6 linked regions of the Homo sapiens genome follow. The protein of the gene in region 1 purifies or fractionates together with the protein of each later gene. This does not show direct contact. Each region holds a gene or a part of one and is shown in the gene's direction. Other genes may lie near its edges. The genes, in order: CHURC1, GLRX, GOSR1, NMT1, ACTR3 and NMT2.

Region 1 (3,500 bases):
ACTAACTATAAAAACTATAGTAATCAAGAGAGTTTGATATTAGTGGGAAGGTAGATATATGTATCAAGGGAACAGAATAGTCAAAGCAGACCCACATATATATGGTCATTGACTTTTTTCTACAAAAGCACCATTGTAATTCAGTGGGGGGAAAGACAGTTCTTCAACAAATCTTGCCAAAACAACTGGAAATCCATACGCAACTAAATAAACCTTGATCCTTACCTCATATATAAAATTATTTCAAAATGGATTATAAACCTAAATCTACAAACTAAAAGCTATAAAACTTCTAGAAAAAAATGTAAGAAACTTTGTGCAACCCTGGGGTAGGCAGAGATGTCTTAGGAGAAAAAAAGTATAAATTATAAAAGAAAAAATGTTAAATTGGACTTTATGAAAATCAAAACTTGTTTGCTCATTAGAAGAAACCATCAAAAAAGGCAAATCAATGACGGAGAAAATATATTTGGGAAAAAACTTGTATCTAAGATATATAAAGAACTCTTACAACTCAAAATAAACAACCTAACTTTTTGAAAATGGGCAAAAGACTTGAATGGACATTTCATAAAAGAAGATACATGAATAAGCACCATGAAAAGATGCTCAACATCATTAGTCATCAAGGAAACAAAAGTTAAAACTACAATGAGATACCACTTTACGTCACTGAATGGCAAAAATAAAAAGCAGTACCTAGTATTGATGTAGCTATAGAGCAACTGGAACTCACACATTGCTGGCAGGAATGTAAATTGGAAAACCATTTGGCAGTTTCTTGTAAAGTTAAATATACCATATTTTTACCATATTAGCAATTCCACTTCTACATATTTACCCAAGGGAAAGGAAGACATGTATCCATCCAAGACTTGCACATGAATCTCTATAGCTGCTTTATTCATAATAGCCCCAAATGGAAACAACCCAAATATCTACCAACAGCTGAATCCTACAGGGAATACTATTTGGCAATGAAAAGCAACAAACTACCAGTACCTAGAACAACAGTGATGATGAACATAGGCATTATATCGAGCAAGGAAAATTGGATGCGGGAGTATACTGATTCTGTTTATATAAAATTCTAGAACGTGCAAGACTGGAGATGGAAATCAGATCAGTGGGTGTCTGGGGTGGGATGGAGGTTAGAGATAGACTGAAAAGCATGAAGGAACTTTTTGGGGTGGATAGAAATGTTTTATACCTTCACTAGGGTAGTGGTTACATGGGTATATACATTGGTTAAAAGTCATTCACCTATGTATACCCTTACAGTGTGTGAATTTTATTGTATGTAAATTGTACCTCAGTAGATTTTATTAAAAAAAAAATCAAAGGCTGGGCACAGTGGCTCATTCCTGTAATCCCAGCACTTTGGGAGGCCGAGACGGGCAGATCACGAGGTCAGGAGATCGAGACCATCCTGGCTAGCATAGTGAAACCCCATCTCTACTAAAAATACGAAAAATTAGCAGGGCGTGGTGGCGGGCACCTGTAGTCCCAGCTACTTGGGAAGCTGAAGCAGGAGAATGGCATGAACCTGGGAGGTGGAGCTTGCAGTGAGCCGAGAGTGTGCCACTGCACTTCAGCCTGGGTGACAGAGCGAGACTCCGTCTCAAAAAAAAAAAAAAAAAAAAAAAATCAAAGCAAAGCATTTGTTCTTAATAACTGGAAATGTATACTTTAATCCTAAGGCCCTTTTCCCTTTTAGTAGTTAAGGCAGTACACCTATGATTTAATAACTATGTAGTAATGTCTTGATTTCTCCCACTAGAATTAATGTCTTCCTCAATACATAGAAGGGAGAGATTCCTCAATATATAGAAGGGAGAGATTAATTCTCCCACCAGAATTAATCTCTTCCTCAATACATAGAAGGGAGAGATTAATTCTGGTGCTTGGAATCCAGAAAGACTTCCTAGTGGCATTATTTATGGTGGATCTTAATTTCGCTGATGCTTCTTAAAACTCCTTGAAGGTAGCAACATGTTTGGCTCATCTTTGAATCCTCTGTTGTGCTTTGCACAATATCAGACACAGATGCACTGGAGAAACGTTGATTTGAGTGATTTTTAATCACATTATTTAAAAATACTCTTTAAGTGTGTTGCTGAGAAATGGGATTGGACTAGATTATTTATAAAGTGACTTTTAATTATTAATTATTAGCCTTTAGCAAAGACTTCCTTTGGGTCGGGGACGGTGGCTCACAACTGTAATCCCAATACTTGGGAGGCTGAGGTGGGAAGATCATTTGAGCCCAGGAGTTTGAGACCAGCCTGGGCAACATAGCAAGACCCCATCTCAATTACCAAAAAAAAAAAAAAGGCTTCCTTTGAGCCAGGAGCATAAGTTATTTAGAATTTCTTTTTTAAAAACTTTTTTTGAAAATTTGTATAGTTTCTTAGTAAAGATGTAAAACCCATTCTCTCTTAAATGCCATTGTGTCAGTCTTACGAAATGAAGAACTTAAGCTTCTCTGCCTCAATCATGTGTATCCTTAAGGACTGACATCTATAGAGCTGAGAGTTTACTTTTGTTTATTTTGTATTATGATCAAGGATCAAAACTATTTGAACAAACAACTAAACATCTATGTAAGATCATCTTTATCATTGACTCAGTTTCTATTTTGATTGAATTTAATTTTAGTTGGTAAGCCTCGTTTAATATTGTTGGTTATTAAATTTTTCTAATTTTCTATTTTCATATTTTATATTAAGGTTTCCTTAAGTTGTTTCTAAATATCTATTTTCAGTTTATCCTCCCTTTTCAACATAGTGGCAGTCCTTACAGACTTAAGGATCTAACACTGCACTTTAGTTGCTTTTTTTTTTTTTTTTTTTTTAACATGAGTAACACTTCTTTAGGAAAGCTAGTAATTTCAAAAATTATTTGGTATATGACCTAGAAGTAAATGCTGGCCATTTTTTAGTTTTGTTTTGCCTTTAGACATTTTAAGTCTGTTAATCATCTTCACTAAAGATTTTGAAATGTAAAGAAATTAAATTCCTGTTTCTGATATTTTAGGGTAATACCTGCCTGGAGAATGGATCTTTCTTACTGAACTTTACAGGCTGTGCAGTGTGCAGTAAGCGGGATTTTATGCTGATCACAAACAAATCCTTGAAAGAAGAAGATGGAGAAGAAATAGTTACCTATGATCGTAAGTAGACTTTATTTTTTAACCTGAGTGTGTTAGCAGGTGTCAGCTTTTGGAAGTCGATATGTTACACAAAATATTCTGAGGCCTATTTCAATATTGTATTGCGCACATAATTACTAGTTAGGTCTTTAAGAGGAAAATGTCATTAACACCTCATTTATCTGGGATATCAAATAGTCTATGTAAATGACTTTTGCAGATAACTAAAGCTTACGATTCAGGAACTGAATTTTTTTTGTTTATCAAATTATTTTTCACGGACATATTTTTAAAAGCTTTATGCTGCCTTAACAAGATATACTTTTTATTATTGTTATTATTGTGACCT
Region 2 (3,189 bases), on another chromosome or scaffold:
GGGTTTTCACTGTGTTAGCCAGGATGGTCTCAATCTCCTGACCTCGTGATCCACCCGCCTCAGCCTCCCAAAGTGCTGGGATTACAGGCGTGAGCCACGGCGCCCGGCCTGATCCTGCAGTCTTAATTATTCTATAAAGTAGCTGTATCTAGTAGGTAATCAGCAGGACATGATTATGGAAAGTTAGTGGCTTCAATCAAGCCATGTACTTGGTAAAACCTGTTTTTGTTTTGCTATAGTCACAGCTCCTAAATTAGTGCCTTCATTTATTTCTCCTCTAATGCACTTTTCTTTACATAGATCTGAGTTTCTGAACTATATCATTTCCCTTCTCTCTGAAGAACTTCTTTGGGCATTTCTTGCAAGGTGATTCCATTGGTAACACATTCCCTCAAGTTTTGTTTACCTTAGAAAGTATTTCTCCTTCGCATTTGAATGATGATTTTACTGGATGCAACAAATATTTTTAAGCACCTACTATGTACCAGACACTTTTATGTACATTGGGGAAAAAATTCTGCCTTTTCTGCCATGAAAAAAACCCTTCTGCCTTTGTTGAACCTATATTCTAGTGGGGGAGACAAACAAATACAGTAATAAAACAGTATGTTGGGAGTTGGTAAGTGGCACGTGCTATGAGGAAAAGTAGGAAAGGTAGGGAGGAAGCATCAGGGTCCAGTTTTAAATGGAGCCATTGGGTCTCACTGAGAAGGGAACATTCGAGCAGATATCTATAGGAGCTGAGGGAGATGGGTGTACACAATTTACAGGTAGAGTGAATGCAAAGGTCCTGGGGTAGACGTTTGCCTGGCAGGTTTGTGGAATAGTAAGGAAGCCAGTATAGTTGCAGCACTGTGAGCCAGTAGGAGAGTTAGTGGAGGTGAGGTCTGAGAGCTAATAGGAGCTTGGAAGAACTGTGACTGGTACTCGGTGTGAGATGAGATGCCCCTGGTGGGTGCTGAGCAGACGAGTCACTTGATCTGACCCCATTTTGAAAGGGCCACTCTGGCAGCTGTGGGGAGAAGAGACAGTAGGGCAAAGGTGAAGGTTGAAGCTGGGAGACATTGGGAGGCTATAGTAGTTATTCAGGTGACAGATGAAGGTGGCTTATACCAGGGAGGTAGCCGAGGAGTGTTGAGAAATTGCTTTTGAGTAGTTGCATTTGTGTAACCCTAGCTAGCGTACAGGAGATGTTGCCTGGCTGAGGCTGGGGAAACCTAGTGCAGGAGAATAAGAACCACAGGATTACCAAACTCGTTTTGGGGTGGCAGTTCTTTCCTCTCCTTGACAGTAGCGGACTCTCAAGTTCCTCTAAAGAGGAGGCTGGGACGGGAAGGGACAGGAGGGGAAGCAGCACAGGGTATTTCCTCTTCTTTGCTCAACTTTATCAACAGTACTTCTTGCTTTGGTTTCACTGCCACAGCACCCCCGTGCCGTCTGTACAGCCTGCCATTCAGCTCCCGTTAGGGGTACCATTCACTGATACGATTTATGGCAGTTTTGCAGTTGTCCAGACTAGAGGATGGGTGTGAGGGTAAAGGAGCCTTTCGCTTCTTTGCCAGACACTGAGCACAAAACTCCACGCTGGGAGCAGCCTGGTCACATTTCAGGGTCATCTCAGGAGGCTGGGGGGCAGCTCCAGGGCTGTGGGTTTTCAAAGCCTCAGTTATCCTGTGAGAGCACAGGGAATAGCCATGGAAATGTGCAAGATTTGTTTTTAATTTTTAGACTTTATTTTTAATGCCTACCTTCACCCAGACCCCCTTTTTAATAAAAGTGCTGTAAGAACTTATCCACAATAATGAAGCCCCTTTTCTCACCTTTCTCACTTTTTGGACAATTTGCTCCAATTATTATGCTTTCTGAGGAAAGCCCAAAGCTTTGAAAAATAGTCTCATTGCTTTCTGCCTCCACCTCTCCCTCCCCTCCAGTGCGTTCCTGGTACTCGGGGAGAGGCCCGCTGGCTCTGATGACGCGGTGACCTCCATGGGGCTTTTTTCTTCACTGCCAGGCAGCCTTGGTGGAACACTCCTGGCCTATAAATTCAGCCACGTTGAGGGTATTTCCTCCTCCCTCGCGATTCTAAAAGCCCTCTGGAATTCTGGAATGTGTCTGCTCCTAGCAGCAGGGAGGAAGTGTGTAACTAGAGAGGAGCCTATTCAGCAGGTGTCATGACTGTGGCTTGGCGTGGGTGACGCACCCTCATCCGGGGTGAGTTAACCATCTTATGATGGACCAGCGATTAAAGGAGACTCAAACACCACTACACCCCCCTGGTTGAGGACAGAGCTCACTTGTGTTGCTTTGTTTTGCTTTCTTTGTTTTGCTCTGTCGTCCAGGTGTGAGTGCAATGGCACCATCACAGCTTACTGCAGCCTCGACCTCCCGGGCCAAAGCAATCCTTCCACTTCAGCCTCCTGAGTAGCTGGGACTACAGGCATGCACCGCCATGCCTGGCTAATTTTTGTATTTTTTGTAGAGACGGGGTCTCACGATGTTACCTAGGCTAGTCTTGAACTCCTGGGCTCAAGCGACCCTCCCACCTCAGCCTCACAAAAGTAGTAGGATTACATTCATGAGCCACTGTGCCTGGCCCTCACCTGTGTTTTAACAACACAGAGAGATGATTGTACTTAATAAACCATGGACCTGAAAAATCAGAGACGTAATGCAAATACTTTTCCAGCTGTATTTAGAAACGAACTCCTTCCTTCCTGATTGCTGTGACCCAGTTTACAATCTTAGGTGTGGTCCCTGATGCAGAGAAAGCAGAGTTCAATCTAGGTGGTCTGACTGCAGCCAATCAGAATTCTCCTTCTGAAACATGTTTCTGTAGAGTGAAATTTTTAAATCCCTTTGACAAGTTGGACAAGCTCATGCATAGCACACAACTTGAAAACTCTTCTGGCGTAAAAACATTCTCGAGTTAATAATGTTACCCCTTATAACAGAAAGGAAGTCCTGTCCTGTGAGCATATACATAAGGAGGTTTTAAAGTGATTTGAAAAGTTTGGAATCACGGGAAATATTTAGTGGTAGGATAGAAATGTTCTGTCTAATCTAGTAATGTAGTAATGTCCTGGGTCGTGTGCTTTTTTAGGTGCCTCGAGTCTTTATTGGTAAAGATTGTATAGGCGGATGCAGTGATCTAGTCTCTTTGCAACAGAGTGGGGAACTGCTGACGCGGCT
Region 3 (3,500 bases), on another chromosome or scaffold:
CTGTATATATTGGATTTAAAGCCAGTTCCTGAGTATTCGTTAGCTAGTTATCCAATCTGTGGATCATTTAAACCTCAATCTTATTTCCTCTTGGTAAGAGTCAAGGAAAGAAGAGAGAATGTAATGTTGAGGTTGAAGGAACCATAATTCCTTTGGGGTAAAAATGTAAAAGATCGTTTCTCACAGACCCTATATAACATAATCCATAATTCATTTTATGGCTCCTATTAATCACCTTATTATTTTAAGTATGTTTTAAAGGACTGATTTGAGTAATGGATCCTCTTTAACTGAACTTCTTTTTAGTTCTGATACAACACCCCTTTTAAATGGATCAAGCCAAGACAGAATGTTTGAGACAATGGCGATTGAGATTGAACAACTTTTGGCAAGGGTAAGTGCTTTCTGTTAAATGGCTATTTTGCAAATAACTGTATACTTGTTACGTAGGATCCTGGATTATATTGAGACAGACATGTTTATTGAAATTATCCATTCCATTCAATATGTGTACCTCCCCACACCACTTGAATTTTGATGACAGCCATTCTCAGGTGATATGATGTTATTTTGGTCTTTATGGATTATGTGGGGGAATGCTGAATTCTTACTTGCTCTCTTGTTTGTTTTTTGTTTTGTTTTGTTTTGTTTTGTTTTGCTGTCAACCAAAAGGGCATATAGGCAAATAATTTGCTTTTAGCTGTTTATAGTGCTTAGTAAAATATTTTGATTGTTTTTTTTTTCTTTATTTCTAGCTTACAGGGGTAAATGATAAAATGGCAGAATATACCAACAGTGCAGGTGTCCCCTCCTTGAATGCAGCCCTGATGCATACATTACAGCGGCATAGAGACATATTGCAGGTAATATATTGGGCTCGAGATGTTTTCATTATCACAGGAGTTTGGGTTTTTTTTTTTTTAATCCCTGCATTGGATATGTGCACATATATTTAAAAGGACAAAGAGAAAAATCTGAGAAAATAAATGCCATGCTAAAGGGACTTGTTTTACTTTTTTTTGGGGTCACCATTATAAAATTCTGAAAATATCTAATAGCTCTTGCTATTTCTTGGCGAAGTTGAGTAATATTCATCACTGGGTACATATACTTCCACTATGGGAGACCTAGCTAGCTAGCTGTAACAGTGAAATAGCCAATGGTCATGTATAGACAATAACGTGGTGGGTAAGCGTGTACTTTCAGCTAGCTTTGAAGATAATATGGAGGGGGAATTATTTACTATACTTAGTATATTGTTTAAGAAAACAGTAAATGTGTATGCACCAATAAAACTAAATAAACTTTTAAAGATTTAAATGGAGGATATGTTAAAAATATGGTAGTACAAATAGGAAGGCAATTTTTTTTTTTTTTTTGAGATAGGGTTTCTCTGTCACTCAGGCTGGAGTGCAGTAGTACAGTCACAGCTCACTGCAGCCTCAACCTCCCAAGCTCAAACAAGCCTCCTACCTCAGCGTCCTGAGCATCTGGGACCACAAGCACATGCCACCACGCCTGGCTAATTTTTTAAAAGCTTTTGCAGAGACAGGTCCTTGCCATGTTTCCCAGGCTGGTCTCTAACTCCTGTGTTCACGAGGTTTTGCTATATTGCCCAGGCTGGTCTCTTAACTCCTGTGTTCACAGGTTTTTGCTATGTTGCCCAGGCTGTTCTCTTAACTCCTGTGTATGGGCAATCCACCCCCTCAGCCTTCCAAAGTGCTAGAATTATAGGCATGAGCCGCTGTACCCAGCCACAAATATTTTTAATATTGAGAAAAGTCAGCAACTATTTCTAATTTTAAAAACTGTTTTTAAAAGTAGGAATAGATGGCCGGGCGCAGTGGCTCGTGCCTGTAATCCCAGCACTTTGGGAGGCCAAGGCAGGTGGATCACCTGAGGTCAGGAGTTGGAGACCAGCCTGGCCAACATGGCGAAACCCTGTCTCTACTAAAAGTATAAAAATAAGCTGGGCATAGTGGTGGGCGCCTGTAATCCCAGCTACTTGTGAGGCTGAGGCAGGAGAAGCTTGAACCCAGGAGGCGGAGGTTGCAGTGAGCTGAGATTGCACCACTGCACTCCAGCCTAGGCTACAAGACTGAGACTCCATCTAAAAAAAAAAAAAAAAAAAAAGTAGGAATAGAAAGATACTTTAATACAAAAATGTATTATCGGGTTAAAAGCTAGCATTGTGTTTAAAGAGAAAGCAATAAAAACATTCCCATTGTATGAAACAAGACAAGGATACCCATGATCGCTACAAATGTATAACGTTGTTTTTTAAGTTCTTGATGGTGCAATTAGACAGTAAAAAGAAATGAAATGTATGCTGGGCATGGTGGCTCACACCTCTTATCCAAGCACTTTGGAGGTCTGAGGTGGGCGGATCATTTGAGGTCAGGAGTTGGAGACCAGCCTGGCCAGCAGGGTGAAACCCCTTCTCTACTAAAAATACAAAAATTAGCGGGGCGTGGTGGTGGGTGCCTGTTATCCCAGCTACTTGGGAGGCTGAGGCAGGAGAATAGCTTGAACATTGAACCTGGGAGGTGGAGGTTGCAGTGAGCCGAGATTGCACCACTGCACTCCAGCCTGGGCAACAGAGTGACTGTTTCAAAAAAAAAAAAAAAGATGTAAATATTGGAAAGGAAGAGGCAAAATTTCTGTGAGGTAGCAGGATAAAATTATATGTCTAGTACACGCAAGAAAATTACCTGATAAAAAGTTAGAAACAATTAAATTCAGTAAGATGGTAGATCACAAAATGAATACATAAAAGCAAATAGTTTTCCTATTATGATAGGAAATAAATGATAACCTGTTAGAAAATACAATGGAAGAAACTATAAAGCATTTATATATGAATTAAATAAGAAATGTGTAGGACTTGTATGTGCAGAATTCTACTGAGGGACATAGAACAAGATTTAAGTAAAGGAAAGAATCATTCTGTTTTTGGATAGGAAGACTTTCGTCTAAATTGCATGACATCCCAGTGGAAACAGCAGGGTTGTATCGTTGTTTGTTTAATTAAAAACAAATGACATAATGACACCAAAGTTCATTTGGAATCATAGACATACAAGAACAACCAAGAAAAACAACCTGAAAATGAAGATAAGTGGTAGAGGGTTCCTAGTTCTACCAGATCTTAAAACCTGTTAAAAAGCTGGAATAGTTAAGACAGTTTGATACTAGAGAAAAAAAATAAATAAATAAAAACAATTAAACAGAGTTTATATGTAGACCCAATTATGTTTGGAAATTTTTAGTTTCTGATAAAGATGTTGTTTAAAATCAGTGGGGCAAAGAGAAATTATAAAATAAATGGAACTATAACCATTGCTTAATTATTCAGAGATTTTAAAAAAACAATTCTATCTCAATCCTCACATCCAGAACAAATTCCAAATGGATCCAAGAAGGATAGAAAAAGAAACCATAAAGCAGAGGTGAAATTTGTAAACTTTGGAGCAGAAAGGACTTTCTAAATAAGACTTGAT
Region 4 (3,500 bases), on another chromosome or scaffold:
AAATCTAAAGATCTGTGAAAATGAGTTTGGAGGTAGTAGGTGAAAAACCAAGGGCCTAGTCTGGAGGAGAGAGTCTAATTCTGGCACTAAGAATCTGGGGTAGAGTCAACATTTTTCCATGAACTTTGAGAGGAAATGGTTTTGGGGAGAAGCAGCAATGTGGGAAAATGCAGCACGGCACAGTAGAAAAGCATGGACTTTGGAATAATTTAAATCTGGTCTGAGGCCAGGCGCGGTGGCGCACATCTGTAATCCCAGCACTTTGGGAGGCTGAGGTGGGCAGATCGCTTGTGGTCAGGAGTTTGAGACCAGCCTGGCCAGCATAGTGAAACCTCATCTCTACTAAAAATACAAAAATTAGCTGGGCATGATGGCAGGCGCCTGTAATCCTAGCTACTTAGGAGGCTGAGGCAGGAGAATCACTTGAAAACAGGAGGCAGAGGTTGCACTGAGCTGAGATCTCTCCAGTGCACTCCAGCCTGGGCGACAGAGCAAGCCTCTGATCTCAAAATCTCATCTCAAAGCTTGGCTCTGACACTTAACAGTCCTGTGACCTTGGGAAAGGTACTTAACTCAGAGTTGTAGGGATTAATGAGATAACATCTGGAATGCACTCCTTTTCCTCCCTCCTCCTCTTTCTTCAGATCGTCCCTAACCTCCCAGCTTGCCCCTCTGCTCTTATCACATACTGTATTGTAGCTTTTATCGTAACAATAGTTATAATAACAATAAATATAACTACATGTTTGGTAATTTTTCTTAATGTGTCTGGTACCTGTCTCATCTGACAGTAAGGAGCATGTAAACAGGATTGTGTCTTCGAAATGCCTAGCACTTAGTGGGCATTAATGAGTATTTGCTGTATGAATGAATGGCAGATATTAAAGTGCCTAGCCCAGTATTAGTGGAGTTTCATCTCCCCTCACCAAGTGAGAGGATGTCAGATTTTTCTTACATACACATTTTCTCTCCCCAAATAATTCTCATTGTAAGCCTCACTACAGTTTTTATGAAATACCTACAGAGGCAGGGCATGGTGGCTCACACCTGTAATCCCAGCACTTTGGGAGGCTAAGGCGGGCGGGATCATGAGGTCAGGAGATCGAGACCATCCTGGCTAACACAGTGAAACCCCATCTCTAATAAAAATACAAAAAATTAGCCAGGTGTGGTGGCGCATGCCTGTAGTCCCAGCTACTCGGGAGGCTGAGGCAGGAGAATGGTGTGACCCTGTGAGGCGGAGCTTGCAGTGAGCCGAGATTGCGCCATTGCACTCCAGCCTGGGCGACAGAGCCAGACTCTGTCTCAAAAAAAAAAAAAAAAAAAAAGAAATACCTACAGAAACCAGGAAGCTCCAATTTGCTGTGGAGCTTTCCACTGTTGTGTGCTTTCCACTGTGTTTTGCTTCTTGAAATGTTTTTTGTCTTAATATTATTTAAAATGTTCTCAAAAATCATGTAAAAATTGACAGAGAAGTTTTCCTTTCAATGCTAGAGAGTCTAAAATGTGTAATATATAATAAAGGTTAATGATAGTTCGAGCTAACCCTTATTCTCCTGGGCCTTTTTTTTTTTTTAAAGAGACTGTGTCTCGCTATGTTGCTCAGACTAGTCTCAAACTCCTGGGTTCAAGTGATCCTCCTGCCTTAGCCTCCCAAAGTGCTGGGATTGTAAGCATGAGCCACCACACCCAGCCTCCTGCCCCTTTTTTTCAGGAACTAAAGTCATAGTACTCTATGCTAATAAAATGAGCTAAATTCATGTACTGGATTCTGTTGCCCGGGCTGGAGTGCTGTGGCGCGATCTTGGCTCACTGCAACCTCTGCCTCCCGGGTTCAAGAAATTCTCCTGCCTCAGCCTCCTGAGTAGCTGGGACTACAGGAGCACACTGCCACACCCGGCTAATTTTTCATATTTTAGTAGAGACGGGGTTTCACCGTTGTTGCCCAGGCTGGTCTTGAACTCCTGAGCTCAGGCAATCCACCTGCCTTGGCCTCCGAAAGTGCTAGGATTACAGGTGTGAGCCACCACGCCCGGCCAGTTGTATTAGTTACTTATGTCTCTTTGTATATGAATTTAGTTCTTGACTTTTCTGGTCTTGTGTTTCCTCCGTAATTAAATCAGCATAAACATTTGGTGAATATAAAACTTCATGTGGTTGTGTGTAGTGGCTCATGCCTGTAATCTCAGCACTTTGGGAGGCTGAGGCAGAAAAATCACTTGAGCTCAGGAGTTCGAGACCAGCCTGGGCAACATGGTGAGACCCCATCTCTATAAATAAAAACAAAAAAACCCAAACCCTTCATGTATACATATAGGTATACATGCATACATATGCAGTGTGTATGGGTGCGTCTCTTCAGTTTTTCTATTTAAAAATTTTTTAATTTAATTTTAAAATTATTGTTATTACTTTGGAAACAGGGCCTCGCTCTGTCGTCCAGGCTATAGTACAGTGGTGTGATCATGGCTTACTGCAGCCTTTGACCTGGGCTCAAGCGATCCTCCCACCTCAGCCTCCCAAGTAGCTAGGATTGTAGACATGCACCATCATCCCTGGCTAATTTTCTTTTTAAAAAGTTTCTGTAGAGATGGGGTCTCACTATTTAGCCCAGGCTGGTCTCAAACTGCTGGCCTCAAGTGATGCTGCCACCTTGGCCTCCCAAACTGCTGGGATTGTGGGCATAAGCTCCTGCATCCAGCTGGTTTTGTTTGTTTTTTTACTGCACTCAATTTCCCCCAGTTACGTGCCTAGCGTAATTATCCTGAACAATTGAGAGGAGAGTCAGATAAGATAACCTTTATGCAGCATCCCCCTGTAGTTCGTGATTCATCTATATGGTTTAATTTGATTTTTTTTTTTTTTTAATGAGAGTCTTTCCAAGAAGTATTGCCAAAGAATAAATCTCATCAGTTGGCAGATTTTAATTTGGGGGTAATAAGTGAAGATTGTCTGAGTGTTTTGGAACAAAAAAGAACTTTTAGACTATTGTGTTCTAGGAATCTTTCGGAATTTATTTTGCAGTGTCTTCAGTGTCATTGAGATCCTGGTAAGCACGGGTCAAGAGCCCTCTGACAAGAGGTGTCTCATCTCCATCCTGCTCTCTTACTCCCTGGGACAGGTTAACATGGATTCTTTATAAGTTCTCCTCATTTCCTGGTTGTGAGATACTATCCCTTATGAAAACTTAGGAGGAGAGAAAAGTCTTTCTGAAAATAAATTCCATAAAGCTAGCCTTACTTGTTTTTGTTTTTTTCTTCAGCTTCTCCAAGAGTCGTTCTTTCCCTATTTATTTGATGGCTTATAGCTGCAGCTAGCTCTTGGAAATAAGAAATCTTTTTAGTTCCTTTTTAATTTCTCCCTTCAACTTTTGGTTTTTCAAAACTAGATCAAAGCAGAATGGAAAGAGAAACCTCATCACTGATATCAAATAAGTGTTCTAATTTTGTTTCCCAATTAAATGGCAATTAAAAAGAAACTAATCAAGAGCTGCTTCAAAG
Region 5 (3,500 bases), on another chromosome or scaffold:
AAGTGTTAAAAAAGTAAGTTAGTGGTGTTTGGGTATTTCAAGGGCTTTCATAGGACAGAAATGAAGGAACTAATATTTATGGAATGCTTTCTCTGTGACAAGAACATTGTATATATATTTATCCTTGTAAATAATCCTTTATCATTTATCCTTATAAATCTTTTTGTCCTTTATTGTAGTCTTTTTTGATTGACTTATCTTTAGGTATATTTGACACCCTAATATTTCACTTCTCTTAATTTGTACGTTTATCTGTATGGAACAGCTTCTCTCCCACCCCTCAGGATCAGAGCTGACCTCATTTTTTTTTTTTTTCCCTTGTAGCAGAGGTAATCCCTGACATAACACAAATGCTTTATATGTGTATTAATTCATTATTTCTATTAAATGTAGATATTTTTGTTTCTGTTTTTTGTGGAGGAAGAAAACTAAAGCTGGAAGGCACTTTATTCATAATTAAATGGTTAGCTGTGATACCAGGCAGCTGAGGTCTGTCTGACTTTGCTCTTTCTTGGGATCACACTGGTTTTTGTAACTCCACGGTACACAGAATCAATAAGTGATAATTATGGATGAATATTTTAACTTGGATAGCAAAGAACTTTTTAATGTTTAATGCAATCCATAAATTTAATGAACTGCCTTTTAAATTCTCTGCTGCTAAAAATATTTAAGGAGTCACTTAAACCTGTCATGAACTTTATAGAAGAATTCAGTCTTGAGTGGGAGGCCCTTTTTTAGTTCTTAGAATATGAATAAAATGAGGAGTTGGGAAAATTCATCTTTCACTTGGGAGTTTTTGCTTCTCATCCTATGTTAAATATAATAAACTTATGTTTAACCATATTGTCAGGTAAAGCTTACTTTAAAACACTGGCATCATGAGCTTTGTTTCATTCCTCTGGAGTCGTAATTTGGTTTTTCAGTGATTTCCTTAGTGGCCTCTGAGTGCTCTTAATTTCATTATTTAATCTCTGTTCTGTTTTGTTGATGTTCAGTAGTCAATAACATTTCTGTAACATGATGTGCTGATACATATCTATTCTAGTTTGGGACCGTAACTGTTTACAAAAGACTTGTAAAAGTGATCAGAGATAATTCTTGGTTGTAGATGATAGTTTTGAACTTACTTATAGAGGAAGGATATCTCATAATGAAGTCTAAACAGTATATATATATATAACTAGTATTAGGATGGAATTTTTCATTTTAAGATTGTCAAAAAATAATGTATAGTTCTGTTAGCCTATAGTGATTATGTGGTGATTGTGTTAATATGATCTTGTGTTCAGATAGGAGGGTGACCTAGATAGCTTTCTAGGTCCCTTTTAGCTATTACAGTCCAGGTAGGTAAAATAAGTCCAGTATAAGTTTAGTTGTTTTTAATTACTAGTCATATACTTTGTTTGAGGCTTGGATTGTAAGAAATTTAGTTTTTTAAAAAATGAACTATGTTAATTTCTTAATTCTCACACTTAAAAAAGAATTGTGTTGTATTGTCTGTACCAAGGTTTTTCATAGAAAAATTTTATCAACGTTGCTCCATAATTAAATCATAGTAGTATTTGGAGGTGTGCGATGGCGTTTTCTGTATGTCATATAGTCCTAAACACATGTTACCTTAAAAAAATTTGAAGGTAGGCCTGGCACAGTGGCTCATGCCTATAATCCCAGCACTTTGGCAGGCTGAGGCAGGTGAATCACAAGGTCAGGAGTTCAAGATCAGCCTGGCTGAGATGGTGAAACCCCGTCTCTACTGAAAATACAAAAATTAGCCGGGTGTGGTGGTGGGCACCTGTAATCCCAGCTACTCCGGAGGCTGAGGCAGAGAATTGCTTGAACCCAAGAGGCGGAGATTGCGGTGAGCCGAGATCGTGCCACTGCATTCCAGCCTGGGTGACAGAAAGAAACTCTGTCTCAAAGAAAAAAAGAAAAAGAAGGTAATCTTTTAGTAATAGTTGTTTATAGCCATATATGTATTGAATAACTGGAGGTAGGGTGGTTGTGTACTTTCTGCCTTACATTGCAGTTTGTAACAGGCCAGCCCACGTGGACATAGTTTAAGTTCTGGCAAGTTAGTTCTATACAATTTTTTTTTTTTTTTTTTTTGAGATGGAGTCTTGCTCTGTCGCTCAGTCTGGAGTACAGTGGCATGATCTCGGCTCATTGCAAGCTCCGCCTCCCGGGTTCACGCCATTCTCCTGCCTCAGCCTCCTGAGTAGCTGGGACTACAGGCGCCCGCCACCGCACCTGGCTAAGTTTTTGTATTTTTTAGTAGAGACGGGGTTTCCCCGTGTTAGCCAGGAAGGTCTCGATCTCCTGACCTCGTGATCTGCCCGCCTCGGCCTCCCAAAGTGCTGGGATTACAGACAGTTAGTTCTGTACTGTTTAATGCAATCTTCCACATTTTTAGCTTTAGGACAGAAATAGCCTTTATAAAATATGTAAATCTTACAAATCATGCTCCTAAAAGCAAATGTAAACCTCTAAGTTTGTCTTAATAAAATGTAGGGAGTGAGCTATTTTATTGCATAATACAAAATTAATTTTATGTATTTTCTTTCCACAGATACTACATTTAAAATTGAATAAAGTACTCCAGGGAACTAGTTTTTTTTTTTTCGATTAACTCTTTGTTTTTTTGTTTTTTTTTTTTGTTTTTTTGCCTTTCTTCTTTCTTTGTGCTCAAGGCTGTTCTTGCCTTAGCTGCATCTTGGACCTCAAGACAAGTAGGAGAACGGACGTTGACCGGTACGGTAATAGACAGTGGAGATGGTGTCACTCATGTCATTCCTGTGGTAAGGCTATTTTACAGTTACTGAACAGAACATGAAATAACACATCTGGCAAAGTTAAATTATACGAATTAATGTTACTTTTAAAAAACTTTAAATGCTGCACTATAATTTGGCCATTTGTCCAGTTATAGCTATGTTTTGCTCACCGTTTAAAACTTTTATAAACAATTCAAAATGTTTCTTTTACTGTAGGTTTGTACTGCAATTAAGAAAATTACAAATTGCAATATCTGGAATGGAAGTATATTAATGGCTTTCATTCTGTTTTCCAGTTGGATGTGTGTTAGCCATTTGATGACCTCTTTTATTCATAATTAACAGATTTCAGACTGGTGTACAGGGTAACTGTATAACAGTTAGTTTTAAGTACCTGAACTTTAGTAGATGCTTTATGGTTTGTACTTAATAAAGCATATTAAGAAAAATGCATCAAATTAGATTGTCAGAAATAACATTTTTCTTCCAAGGCCGTTGTGCTTCAGTTCTTAATGATACATCAAGTTTTAAAAAAATTATGCCTAATGAATTCAAAATGACTACTAGAATTCATACTGTTTATTATTAAATGGGTATATAGAGAAAGGTTTATCTTTTAAAGTAATTTTTATATTATAATGAATATCACTTAAGGATTTACATTATTTTGAACTTTTTTTTTTTTTTATTCTCACTCCAGTGTTTAATGCATCAGGCAATGTCTGT
Region 6 (3,500 bases), on another chromosome or scaffold:
CTAAGAACTTTGTGCAAATCACCAATGGGCACTTAGGCTGAAGTCCCAACTCCAGGCCCTTCTTGGCCTCTACACAGCACAATATAAGGGGCCCCAAATTGGACTGCCGAGAAAGAAGTGTGACTTACTGCTTTTCGTTCTCTGGGGCAAGGGAGAGAACAGAGTTAGTGGAAATGCACGTATGCAGTTGGTTCAAGGAGATCTCTGTCTGACAGCACTTTTGCTCCTAGAGCCCCAACGGTAAACTGACTGATTTCCTGAGCTTCTATACGCTCCCCTCCACGGTGATGCACCACCCTGCTCACAAGAGCCTCAAAGCCGCCTACTCATTCTACAACATCCACACAGAGACGCCCCTGCTGGACCTCATGAGCGACGCGCTCATCCTGGCTAAATCGGTAAGCCACTCCTTCCTGTTCACGCCGTTTGGTTCTCCAAATGTCTGTGCCAAACTATAGAAGACATCTTACTGTGTTTTCTTCCACACAGGTGGAATTTATGCGAGACTTTAAAAAAACTATTGATCATCAGTCAAAGGAAGAATTTTGATAAGAGTTTCTTTTGAAACTTTAGAGGCTATTTTCATCATTAATTTTATGGCAGTTTAACAAAAAAGACAAAATGTACAAATTATAAATGTTTAATCCTTATATAAGAATATATAAGGCTGGGCATGGTGGCTCAGGCTTGTAATCCCAACACTTTGGGAGGCCGAGATGGGTGGATCACCTGAGGTTAGGAGTTTAAGACCAGCCTGGTTAATATGGTGAAACCTCGTCTCTACTAAAAATACAAAAGTTAGCCAGGCTTCGTGGTGTGTGCCTGTAATCCCAGCTACTCGGGAGGCTGAGGCAGGAGAATTGCTTGAACCTGGGAGGCAGAGGTTGCAATGGAGCTGAGATTGCACCACTGCACTCCAGCCTGGGTGACAGAAACTGTCTCAAAAAAAAAAAAAAAAAAAAAAAAAAAAAAAAAAATATATATATATATATATATATATATATATATATATATATATAAAGCCCATATCTTAGGAAGTAATATAAGGAAAATATTAATACATGAGTGAATATTTTTGTTGAGTGAATAACTAGCAGCAATTTTTTTATTCAACCAAATAGTCTCTGAATTTTAAAATTAAAGGAATGAAATTCAAAATTTAATTGTAGCCAGTCTACATGGTGAAACCCTGTCTCTACTAAAAATACAAAAATTAGCAGGGTGTGATAGCACACACCTGTAATCCCAGCTACTCGGGAGGCTGAGGCAAGAGGATTACTTGAACCTGGGAGTTGGCGGTTGCAGTGAGCCGAGATTGCACCATTGCATTCCAGCCTGGGCCACAGAGTGAGACCCTGTCTCAAATTAATTAATTAATTAAAATAAAATAAAATAAAAATCTCTTACCTGTGCCTTTGGATCCCCAAGTCAACATCATCCTCAGATTGTCTGCTTTTTTTCAACACTTCCCAAATATGGCCAGTAATTAGTTATTTAAGGTAAAAACCCTGAGAAATAAAAATAAAAAGTGCTTCTTCTATATCACATTTTGCATAGTATTATTGTCTGACATTTTAAAGAAATTTAATTTTTTACCATTAAAATTTTACATAAATATATTTCCCATTATCAGCCCAAAGCAAACATACTATTTTTTTATACTTTTTTTTTTTTTTTTTTTTTTGAGATGAGTCTTGCTGTGTTACCCAGGCTGGAGTGCAGTGGCACAGTCTCGGCTCACTGCAACCTCTGCTTCCCATGTTCAAGTGATTCTCTTGTCTCAGCCTCCAGAGTAGCTGGGACTATAGGTGTGTGCCACCACACCTGGCTAATTTTTGTATTTTTAGTAGAGACAGGGTTTCATCATATTGACCCGGCTGGTCTCGAACTCCTGACCTCAGGTGATCCACCTGCTGCGGCCTCCCAAAGTGCGGGGATTACAGGCGTGAGCCACCACGCCCGGCCTGCATACTATTTAAAGTCTTTACAACTTTGGTCCCTGGGCAATAGCTTCAGCCAAGGTAGGACTTAGAAAGGCTAATAATTAATAATCCTGGAGATGAAACCATCTTGACAACTGTTCCCTTCTAAAACAAGAACGAGGCTGGGTGCAGTGGCTCATGCCTGTAATCCCAGCACTTTGGAAGGCCAAGGCAGGTGGATCACTTGAGGTCGGAGTTCAAGACCAGCCTGGCCAACACGGTGAAACCCGGTCTCTACTAAAAATACAAAGAAATTAGCTGGGCATGGAGGTGCACACCTGTAATGCCAGCTACTAGGAAGTTTGAGGCAGGAGAATTGCTTAAATCTGGGAGGTGGAGGTTGCAGTGAGCCGACATCATGCCACTGTATTCCAGCCTGGATGACAGAGTGAGACTCCATCTCAAAAAAATTTAAAAATAAATAAATAAAACATAAATAAAATATTTTCTGAAATCTTCATAAGTAATTTTATGCCAGTGACAGCCATCATACTACATTTTTAACATTTTTGGGATTCAGCGTTTCTGAATTTTCATGCTGACTTCATTGGATTCACTATAGTTTGTTTGTTTTTTGAGACAGGCGCTCACTCTGTTGCTCAGGTTTAAGTGCACTGGCACAATCACAGCTCACTGCAGCCTCGACCTCTTCGGCTTATGCAATCCTGCCTCAGCCTCCTGTGTAGCTGGGTCCACAGGCACACACCACCATGCCGAGTCAATCTTTTTATTTTTGTAGAGACAATGTCCTGTACCTACACCTACACCTATACCTACAGCCTATGCCCAGGCTGGTTTCAAATTCCTGGGCTCCAGTGAGCCTCCCACCTTGGCCTCCCAAAGTGCTGGGATTACAGGCGTGAGCCACCACATCCAGCCACACTGCTAGTTTTATAAGACAATTTTCAACTGAATTCTTCCTCTTTTTAAAGAAAGAAAAAAAAAAAGTCTCACTCTGTCGCTCAGGCTGGAGTGCCGTGGCACAATCTCGGCTCACTGCCACCTCTACCTCCCAGGCTCAAGCAGTTCTCCTGCCTCAGCCTCCTGAGTAGCTGGGACTGCAGGTGTGCGCCACCACATCTGGCTTATTTTTGTTATTTTTAGTAGAGATGGGGTTTCGCCATGTTGGTCAGGCTGGTCTCGAACTCCTGACCTCAAGTGATCCACCCACCTCAGCCTACCAAAGTGCTGGGATTATAGGCATGAGCCACAGCATCCGGCCCTGAATTCTTAACCTATGCTATATATCACGGACGTTAAATCCTATTAGAAATGCATATTCGAGCTATTAGTAGAATTGTTAAACTGAGATATGTAATACAGAAAACACTAGTCCTTTGTTTTAAATTTTAAATCTTTTTTAAATTGGCAGAAAGGATTTGATGTATTCAATGCACTGGATTTGATGGAAAATAAGACATTCTTGGAAAAACTCAAGTTTGGTATAGGAGATGGCAATTTGCAGTATTACCTGTACAATTGGAGGTGTCCAGGTACAGATTCTGAAAAGGTAAGTGA

Evidence for each region.
Region 2: the proteins of CHURC1 (region 1) and GLRX purify together in Homo sapiens (affinity purification with mass spectrometry; one large-scale study listed by BioGRID and IntAct). This does not show direct contact.
Region 3: the proteins of CHURC1 (region 1) and GOSR1 purify together in Homo sapiens (co-immunoprecipitation; one large-scale study listed by IntAct). This does not show direct contact.
Region 4: the proteins of CHURC1 (region 1) and NMT1 purify together in Homo sapiens (affinity purification with mass spectrometry; one large-scale study listed by BioGRID and IntAct). This does not show direct contact.
Region 5: the proteins of CHURC1 (region 1) and ACTR3 purify together in Homo sapiens (affinity purification with mass spectrometry; 2 studies listed by BioGRID and IntAct, with this or other methods). This does not show direct contact.
Region 6: the proteins of CHURC1 (region 1) and NMT2 purify together in Homo sapiens (affinity purification with mass spectrometry; one large-scale study listed by BioGRID and IntAct). This does not show direct contact.

Annotation. Positions count from the first base shown.
Region 1 is NC_000014.9:64,920,955-64,924,454, forward strand, and holds part of CHURC1 (protein Churchill), read left to right. Parts: intron 1-3,036; coding exon 3,037-3,172; intron 3,173-3,500. Other genes in the region: CHURC1-FNTB protein, read left to right, coding at 3,037-3,172. UniProt on the Homo sapiens protein: Transcriptional activator that mediates FGF signaling during neural development. Plays a role in the regulation of cell movement.
Region 2 is NC_000005.10:95,816,538-95,819,726, reverse strand, and holds part of GLRX (glutaredoxin-1), read left to right. Parts: intron 1-3,100; coding exon 3,101-3,189. UniProt on the Homo sapiens protein: Has a glutathione-disulfide oxidoreductase activity in the presence of NADPH and glutathione reductase. Reduces low molecular weight disulfides and proteins.
Region 3 is NC_000017.11:30,483,908-30,487,407, forward strand, and holds part of GOSR1 (Golgi SNAP receptor complex member 1), read left to right. Parts: intron 1-306; coding exon 307-394; intron 395-755; coding exon 756-863; intron 864-3,500. UniProt on the Homo sapiens protein: Involved in transport from the ER to the Golgi apparatus as well as in intra-Golgi transport. It belongs to a super-family of proteins called t-SNAREs or soluble NSF (N-ethylmaleimide-sensitive factor) attachment protein receptor.
Region 4 is NC_000017.11:45,064,317-45,067,816, forward strand, and holds part of NMT1 (glycylpeptide N-tetradecanoyltransferase 1), read left to right. Parts: intron 1-3,500.
Region 5 is NC_000002.12:113,931,589-113,935,088, forward strand, and holds part of ACTR3 (actin-related protein 3), read left to right. Parts: intron 1-2,690; coding exon 2,691-2,798; intron 2,799-3,500. UniProt on the Homo sapiens protein: ATP-binding component of the Arp2/3 complex, a multiprotein complex that mediates actin polymerization upon stimulation by nucleation-promoting factor (NPF).
Region 6 is NC_000010.11:15,109,694-15,113,193, reverse strand, and holds part of NMT2 (glycylpeptide N-tetradecanoyltransferase 2), read left to right. Parts: intron 1-230; coding exon 231-398; intron 399-1,407; exon of another isoform or gene 1,408-1,666; intron 1,667-3,354; coding exon 3,355-3,492; intron 3,493-3,500.